Regions from separate parts of the Homo sapiens genome. Here region 2 is linked to region 1. Evidence: fine-mapped expression QTL. A gene starts in region 1. The other region holds a variant in brackets. All regions are shown on one strand. Distances are between the middles of the regions. Region 1 holds the start of PXK (PX domain containing serine/threonine kinase like). Region 2 holds the start of RPP14 (ribonuclease P/MRP subunit p14).

The links. PIP is the estimated chance that this variant, and not a neighbour inherited with it, causes the effect. A credible set is the group of variants that fine-mapping cannot tell apart.
Region 2: its variant is the best candidate, but not a certain one, in a credible set for the expression of PXK in whole blood (INTERVAL, PIP 0.70).

What each region holds. Positions count from the first base shown.
Region 1 is chr3:58,330,576-58,335,088 of GRCh38, reverse strand. PXK (PX domain containing serine/threonine kinase like) reads right to left here and starts at 2,197. Exons shown (of 18, transcript NM_017771.5): 1 at 1,999-2,197. The coding sequence starts at 2,100. RefSeq lists silencers at 1,353-1,647, 1,894-2,423.
Region 2 is chr3:58,302,979-58,306,978 of GRCh38, reverse strand. It overlaps RPP14 (ribonuclease P/MRP subunit p14), which reads right to left and starts at 734. Exons shown (of 6, transcript NM_007042.6): 1 at 562-734. It overlaps HTD2 (hydroxyacyl-thioester dehydratase type 2), which reads right to left and starts at 459. Exons shown (of 5, transcript NM_001348712.2): 1 at 328-459. RefSeq lists enhancers at 169-298, 419-678, 869-948. The variant A/T (reference allele first, on the strand shown) is at 1,699.

The sequences.
Region 1 (4,513 bases):
GCCTGGACAACATGGTGAGACGCTGTCTCCACACACACACACACACACACACACACACACACACACACACCAGCCTGGACAACATGGTGAGACGCTGTCTCTACACACACACACACACACACACACACAGACACACACACACACACACACACACACACACCCTTACAATAAAAACAGAATCCTATTACATCTTTCGCCACCTAGCTAAAGCACTGATCTCTAAGTTATTTTTTCAATGTTTACAATTACCATTTTACATAAACAGAAAAAGAGGCATAGTAAGGTTGAAGTTGGATTATTTAGTCATTTGATAAACACATTTGAAATCCTATCAAAAACCAGGGAATGAGACTCAAAAGTGAGGAAGAAGTGCCCCTCCTCTTGTAGCCTGGTGGAGACAAAAAGTAAAGAAGTAATTACAGGACAAACTAATCAAGATTAAGGTGTGGGTAGGCACATGGGCTGGGGCTGTAGAAATCATGAATGCTTCCTAGGGAAAGTAATTTGTGAGTATTTAGAAACATCTATCTCTTTATTTTCAATACAAAATAAACCTAAAGGACTCGACACTATTCCCTGAAAGGTTATAAGACTTACTTGCCAATAGTCAAGTCAAAAATCAAATTTAATAGCTGAATTACTCTTGACTCCCTATCCTAAATTTCAACCCTTATGCCATACTCCCTTTAGGCACAAATGATAGCAAGTTTAACAAATTCTGTCCTGTATGTGCCTTCTCACATGTCTACAGAATAGGATTAAAGACACACAGCGTGAAATAAATAGCCCTTTTTAAAAAGATAATAATTTTCTTAACTGGAAGTGAATGCTTTGAACAATTCAAGCCCTACAAAGCACGGCTGTCAGAAGAGGAAACTGAGGTTCAAAAAAGTCTCACTTTAATACAACAGAATAAAAGGTCTCTTTGAAGTCATCAGAAGAGCTTGAACGAAAAGAGAAACAGAAGGCTATTGTGAGCTTTAGCCTCCAGATGATGACCCCCCAAACACACTGCAATGGTAAACAAACAAGCCTCTGAGTCTGAATCTGATTCGGTGGACTGACAAAACATCACAATTGAAGGAATCTCTCTCCTCACTCATTACTTTTCCAAAAAAGTCCCACTAGCTGATAGCTCCAGGTTTCTTGCTGGTTCCTAGATTTATTGCTTGGAAATTATAATGCATAGTGGGCCTTTCAAAAAAAAAAAAAGGTACAAGCAAATGAAAACAACCACGGTTTTAAAGCCCCATAAAAGACCGTATATGTAGCAGAAATGAACCCTGCCAATGTTTACTATGAGGACCTATTACTCCTTTATGCTACTCGAGTGGATTTTAAACTCAAATGAATGCTACCACTGCCCACTAAAGAGCAAGTTAGAGAAGCACATTCATACACCTGCTTAACAGCGCCCCGACTGCCGCCCCCACCACTTCCCGGGACCAGGGCCAAGCGGCTGACCTGGAAACGGGGCTGCAGACCCCAGCCACTTACACTCTGCTGTCCCAACAAGTAGGCTCTGGAGTCACACTTCATTTGGCCCGGCACACCCTCATCCCCATCACCCAGACCCTCAGCTGCAAGGAGGAAATTACACGGCCTCAAAAAGGAAAAGGCTGGCGGCGGGCAGAAGTGGATGGTCCTGAGCGGTCTCGTTCCTGCTCCCCTAGTCCAAGGTGAGCCCGGGAATCCCGCAGCCCCCGCCCCCGCCCCCCAACTCGGAGTCGCTTTCCTGGTCGCCGCCGAGCTCCTTCCACCCCGCGGCGCCGGGAGCTGCGGTCCCCATCCTTGGCCCCTCCGGGCCTCAGCGTTCGCCTGGGCCCCAGGGGCCCTGACCCAGACCCAGCGGCGCGCCACAGCCTTCTCGGCCAGGGCCGCCCACCCTGTGGCCCGGTCTCCGTCCGACGACCCTGCCCGGCCCGCGCCAGGCAGCCCGCAGCCCCCTCGCGGCCCGGGGCCGCCCCACGCCGCCCGCCCGCCCGCTGGGCCGCGCACCGTGTGGGACTGCAGGCTCTGGCTCGCCTCGATGGCTGCTGTCAGCGGCACCGTGTCGTCCAGCAGCACCTTGCCGGCTGGCGGCTTCTCCATGAAGGCCATCCCGGGACGCCCGGCCGCCGCCGCCTAGGGACGCGAGGTAGGAACCCGAGGCGCCGACTCCCGCCGCCCGCCCGGTTCCACCGCCGCCGCTGTCAACACGCGCCGCCCCACGCGCCGCCGGGCCCGCGGGGTCCTAGCGCCGCCCTTCCCACGGCCGCCGCCCCGGAGTCCTAGCGCCGACCCAGCGCAGAACGTGTGGGGGCCGCCAGCACTGCCGCCCGCTGGCCCGCTCCTCCGCCTCGCGGCTGCCATGGGCCTGCGCTTCCCTGCTCCTCGCAGCCGCACCGCAGACCCGGTGCCCTTAGCTCCGGGCTTCGGACCAGGGAACACCACCCTAAGCCATCACTACCAGGATCCTCAGATCCAGAGACGCCTGGTCCTGAGCCCTGGGATCCAGGAATCTTCAGGGCGAGATTTCCAAACCAGGCCTCTCAGAACTGGGCTTTTCGGGGACCGTACCTCTTGAAACCCTCAGAACTGGATCTCTCTCATCCCCCAGGCCCAAGGACCCTAAAACTCAGAAAAAGGGCCTTTAGGATGGGACCCCCAGTCTGAGCCCTGCAAACCCAGAGACTTTCTGAAACAAGCCCTTCCTATTGAAACTTCACAGGGACTCTTGAACGTGGCTCCTCAGGCCTGAACACCTAAGAGCTGGACCCCATAATTGGAGGTCTTGGGCCCCAGAACCCTCAGACCCAAGCTCTAAGAACTGGAGACCCTATAAAATGGTCCAGAGACCCCTAGCCTCTACTCTTGGCCCCCACTGCGGGCTCAACCACATCCCTTAGACTTGGGAGTTTTTGATCCCACCATATGGACTAGAAGAACTTCAAACCAAGAGCCAAGCCAGAGAACCTTGGGATCAACTTCTCAGCCCTAAATCTGCCCACAGTCTGCCTGAACCCAAAGCCATAATCCTGGCACCACCTCATCCCCCCCATCTCCATATACACCTAGAAATTTCACCCACACTGCCCTCTCCTAGGGCAGCATTCCAGGATAGTGAAGAGTTAAATTTAGAATTGGAGGACCATCATCTCCATGGCTCTGGCATTTACCAGCTGTGTGATCTTCAATAAGTTACCCAACCTCTCTGAGTCCCAACTCCCCAATTTGCAAAGTGGAGATAATATTATTTGTATGAAAAGGTTAATACAAGGAATGCAGTAGACTGGGAAGGGGCTTGGCACATAGTAAAAACTCAAACGGTGGTCAGGCATGATCGCTCACGCTTGTAATCCCAGCACTTTGGGAAGCCAAGGTGGGTGGATCACCTGAGGTCAGGAATTTGAGACCAGCCTGGCCAACATGGCAAAACCCCCTCTACTAAAAATATAAAAATTAGCTGGGCATGGTGGCACGTGCCTGTAGACCCAGCTACTCTGGAGGCTGAGGCAGGAGAATTGCTTGAACCCGGGAGGGGGAGGTTGCAGTGAGCCAAGATCATACCACTACACTCCAGCCTGGGTGACAGAGTGAGACTCTGTCTCAAAAAACAAACAAAAAAACAGACAAACAAAAACACCTCAAACCGTGGTCAGGCATGATGGCTCACCTTTGTAATTCCAGCACTTTGGGAGGCTGAGGAGAGTGGATGGCTTGAGTCCAGGAGTTTAGCCTGGGCAATATGGTGAGACCCCGTCTCTACAAAAAAATTTTAAAAATACCTGGGCATGATGGCTCACACCTGTGGTCCCAACTACTCAGGAGGCTGAGGTGGGAGAGTTTTTTGAGCACAGGAGGTTGAAGCCGCAGTGAGCCATGATCATGCCACTTCACTCCAGCCTGGGTAACAGAGCAAGACCGTCTCCGGAAAAACAAAAAAAAAACAAAACAAAGTCAATATTAGTTTCCTCCTTCCCCTACAGTTGACAGAATGGAAGGTTCCTAACTCTTAAATTTGCCTCCACTAAATTTCTACACTTCAGATAAGGGAACAAAGTTCCTTGGTAATCCCACCACCACCACCAAAATTTGACATCACAGGAAAGGCCCACATCATACATAAAGGGTCCCTTCTCCAGATCTCAAGCTTATTGGGATTGGTGGGCAGCCCCGTTGAGTCAAGTAGCCATGAGATTGGTCCCAGGGGCCAAGATCTAATAGAGCGAGATGTGAAGAAGGAATCCTGGACCTTCATGATTCAGCCCTAAAATAATCAGAACTCTCCCTCCATTCCACTTTTGTGCCAGTGTGTTTAAAAGCAGCAGTCTATTAAAGCAAAACCATATGTCATTTAGGGAGGATTCAACTTTTTACTTTCATTTCTTTGTTTTAAGGCAAATAGATTATTTCTCTGCCAGAGTCACAGAAACCAAAATCCAGCTATAATCATTACTCCTATTGTGATGTGGACTGACCAAGACAAGGCTCTTTTCTCTTACTGCAGGTGGGAGTATAAATTGGCGCCACC
Region 2 (4,000 bases), 28 kb after region 1:
GTGCCCTTCTCGGCTAACACCGCACCCCACCCCCATGCCCCGTCCCTGCTTTCTTCTTCGTAGCATTTGCCTTTTTCTATGACAATTATGTAACTCGTTTATCTTTATCTGTACTTCCCCTCCCCACCCCAACAAAAGTCCACTCCAAGAATCTTGCTATCTTGTTCACTGCTGTTTCCCAAGGCCCTAAAACACTGGGTCGTGCACAGTGGGCGTGCGACGTACAATTTTTGGACTAAATCAATCACTTTAAAAAGCTCAATATCCTTACTGCTGAGCACTTGGGTGGCTTTCAATATTTTTCAACAACCACTATTTAGCGCTCACCTCGCGCCGGGCGCATGGAGAGCGCTCAGGACACGGTCCCGAAGTCTCGCCCGGGCCTCTCGGCCACGTTCTGCGGCCGAGACCCTACGCGGCGCCGTACAGAGGCCCTCAGCGCCCGGGGTCGGAGAGGACAAGCTACCCAAGGCGCACCGCCCGCCCCGCGCATGCGCCCGGGTCGCGGCCAACTGAGACGGCTCCCAGACAACCGCCGCTCTTTGGAAGGCTTCCACCTACCCACTCTTCGTCGGACTAGCCTGACGCCTGACCAGACTCCTATTCGCCGCAAGGACCCGCCAAGGCTTGGGGCTCCCCGGCAGCAGCCACAGCTGGGCCCGAGAAACTCCTGGTGTCTTTACGTTTGGCTTCTCCTCGTCCCGCCCCACGAAGCGTGACGCCCAGGCGGATATGACGTCACCACGCGGCGTCGTCCTAAGGACCCAGGCGCGAATCCTGATCCGGAGCTGAGAGCGGCCGAGCTCAGCGCCCTCTGGTGTCCACTCCGGGAAAGCCGTGTGTGCAATTTGCTTGGGGTGCGGTTTAGGGCGGGTTTTTTCCGCCTTGGACGGTGCTTCATAGTTATCCATTTCTTCATGCATTCATTCATTCATTCAACAATTTTTTCGTTGTTTTTTTGAGACAGTTTCACTCTGTCGCCCAGGCTGGAGTGCACTGGCGCGATCTGGCTTACTGCTACCTCCGCCTCCAGGGCTCAAGCGATTCTCCCACCTCAGCCTCCTGAGTAGCTAGGACTACAGGTATGCTCCACCATGCCTGGCTAATTTTTGTATTTTTAGTAGAGACGGGGTTTCACCATGTTGGCCAGGCTGGTCTCGAACTCCTCGCCTCAAGTGATCTGCCCACCTTGGCCTCCCAAAGTGCTGGGATTACAGACGTGAGCAACTGCGCCCGAGTCATTCTACACATTTTTTTCATTATATTATAATTTATTTATTGAGATGGAGTCTCGCTCTGTCGCCCAGGCTGGAGTGCAGTGGCGCCATCTTGGCTCACTGCACCCTCCGCCTCCCTTCAAGTGATTCTTCTGCCTCAGCCTCCCAAGTAGCTGGGACTACAGGCATGCACCACCATGCCCAGCTAATTTTTGTATTTTTAGTCGAGACGAGGTTTCACCATGTTGGCCAGCATGGTCTCAATCTCTTGACCTCGTGATCTGTCCACCTCGGCCTCCCAAAGTGTTGGGATTACAGGCGTGAGCCACCGCGCCTGGCCTAATTTTTGTATTTTTAGTAGAGACAGGGTTTCACTATGTTAGCCAAGCAGGTCTCAAACTCCTGACTTCAGGCAATCCACCCACCTCGCCTCCCAAAGTGTTGGGATTACAGACGTGAGCCACCGCGCCCAGCCTACAAA[A/T]TTATATCTAGCATCTCCTCTCCTCAAGATCTCCTATGTCAAGCACTCCCCAAAGATAGGACCCACTCTCAGTGTCCCTTGTGACTCCCAGCACATAGTAGGTGTTCTATCTAGGCCGTCCTGGAAAGACCCACAAAGTAAAGACTTACTTTGTGCTAGGCACTATGCAAAATATTTTACATATGTCATCTCATGGAACCCTCACACAATCCTGAGATGGCTATTACTATGATCATCACCATTTTAGAGGTAGAAACTGAGGCACAGGCCAGGCGCAGTGGCTCATGCCTGTAATTCCAGCACTTTGGGAGGCTGAGGCGGGCAGATCACTTGAGGCCAGGAATTCGAGACCAGCCTGGCCAGCATGGTGAGACCCCCATCTCTACTGAAAATACAAAAATTAGCTGGGCACGGTGGTGCACACCTGTAATCCCAGTTACTCGGGAGGCTGAAGCAGGAGAATTGCTTGAACCTGGGAGGTAGAGGTTGCAGTAAGCCGAGATCACACCACTGCACTCTAGCCTGGCAACAGGAAAAGAAACTGAGGCACAGAGAGGCTAAGTTATTTGCTCAAGATCACAGTTATAAGCAGTGGCATGGGCTGTCTGATTCTAGCCAGTGCTCTCCATACTGCACTGTATTACCACCAATTGAGGGGCTGCAGTGGGAAGGGAAACTTTAGTGTAACCCCCATGAGGATGGGGCCTTGTCTGTGTTTCTCACCACTGCATCCCAGTTCCTGGTACCCAATGGTGACCCAACATCTATTTACTGAAGGCATTTGTTCATAAATGGATGTGCTGGTTTTGCTTGGGTTGGGGGGCAAAGGGTTGCCTTGCACAGGACAGTTGAGTCAGCGGGGATCTCCTTCCTCAATTATTTTCTCAAAATCCCACTGTGTTGTTTCCAGAAGCTTCAGTCCTCAACCTTGGCCATGCTCTCCAGTTCTGTGGTTCCTACTTTCTTCTTCCTTCAGAGGAGACAGGGCTTGTTCCAGATGTGGGAAGAGGTGGAGAAAGCAAACACAGACCCCACAGACCCAAGTATTATCTTTCTCAAAAAAGCTTGATTTCAGAAGCTGCCAGAACTTGCTTCAAATGCATCCTCTGCCACTTACCTACCTCCCTCATCTGTCACATGGAGAGATTATTAGCATCTACCTCACAGAGTTGAGGGAAAAAGAGTTGATGGTATAAAGTGTCTGGCACCCCAGGAAACCCTCAGTAATGGGAGAGGGTTCCTGTAAGCCAGCTGCCTGGCAAATGTATCCTGCCAGGTGGCCCAGGAAAACCAGAGCAATTCCTGTATTTTGAACTTCAAGGAACAATAGATAATTTTCACCCTGCTGCAACAAACCCTGAAAATGAAGTGTCTTCCCAGTTGCCTGAATTCTCTCATGCTGTCTTATTAATTCAGAGCGGAGGATAAAAGAGATGCCTTTGAATGATAAAGACAAAAAACTTGTTTTTTGGCTGGGTGTTGTGGCTCAGGCCTGTAATCCAGCACTTTAGGAGGCCGAGGTGGGCAGAACACCTGAGGTCAGGAGTTCAAGACCAGCCTGGCCAACATGGCGAAACCCTGTCTCTACTAAAAATACAAAAATTAGCTGGGTGTGATGGTGCGCACCTGTAATCCCAGCTACTCGGGAGGCTGAGGCAGGAGAATTGCTTGAACCCAGGAGGCAGAGGTTGCAGTAAGCTGAGATCACGCCACTGCACTCTAGCCGAGATGACAGAGCGAGACTCTGCCAACAAACAAAACAAAACAAAAAACAAAAAAAAACTTTTGTTTTTCAACTAAATTTTATATTAAAAAATCGTTTTTGGACAGTGTCTCACTGTCACCCAGACTGTAGTACAATAATGTGATCATGGGTCACTGTAGCCTCAACCTCCCAGGCTCAACCGATCCTCCCACCCCAGCCTCCCAAGTAGCTGGGACTACAGGTGCATGCCACCATGGCCAGCTAATTTTTAATTTTTTTGTAGAAACAGGGTCTCACCATGTTGCTCAGGCTGGTCTTGAACTCCTAGGCTCAAGCGATCCTTCTGCGTTGGCCTCCCAAAATGCTGGGATTACAGGTGTGAGGCACTGCACCATGCCTAAATTTTATCTTCTGAATAGGTACTGTAGGCTTACAGCATACATTTCAAATGACATAAAGGGATAGATATTAAAAAGTGAGTCTCCCTTCCACCTCTTCCCCTGTCAGCCTCTCCCCTCTCCAGGAGCAACAACTAGTATGAGTTTCTTAAGTGTCCCCTGAAAAATATGATATGGGGGCTTTTACCTCTTGACGATG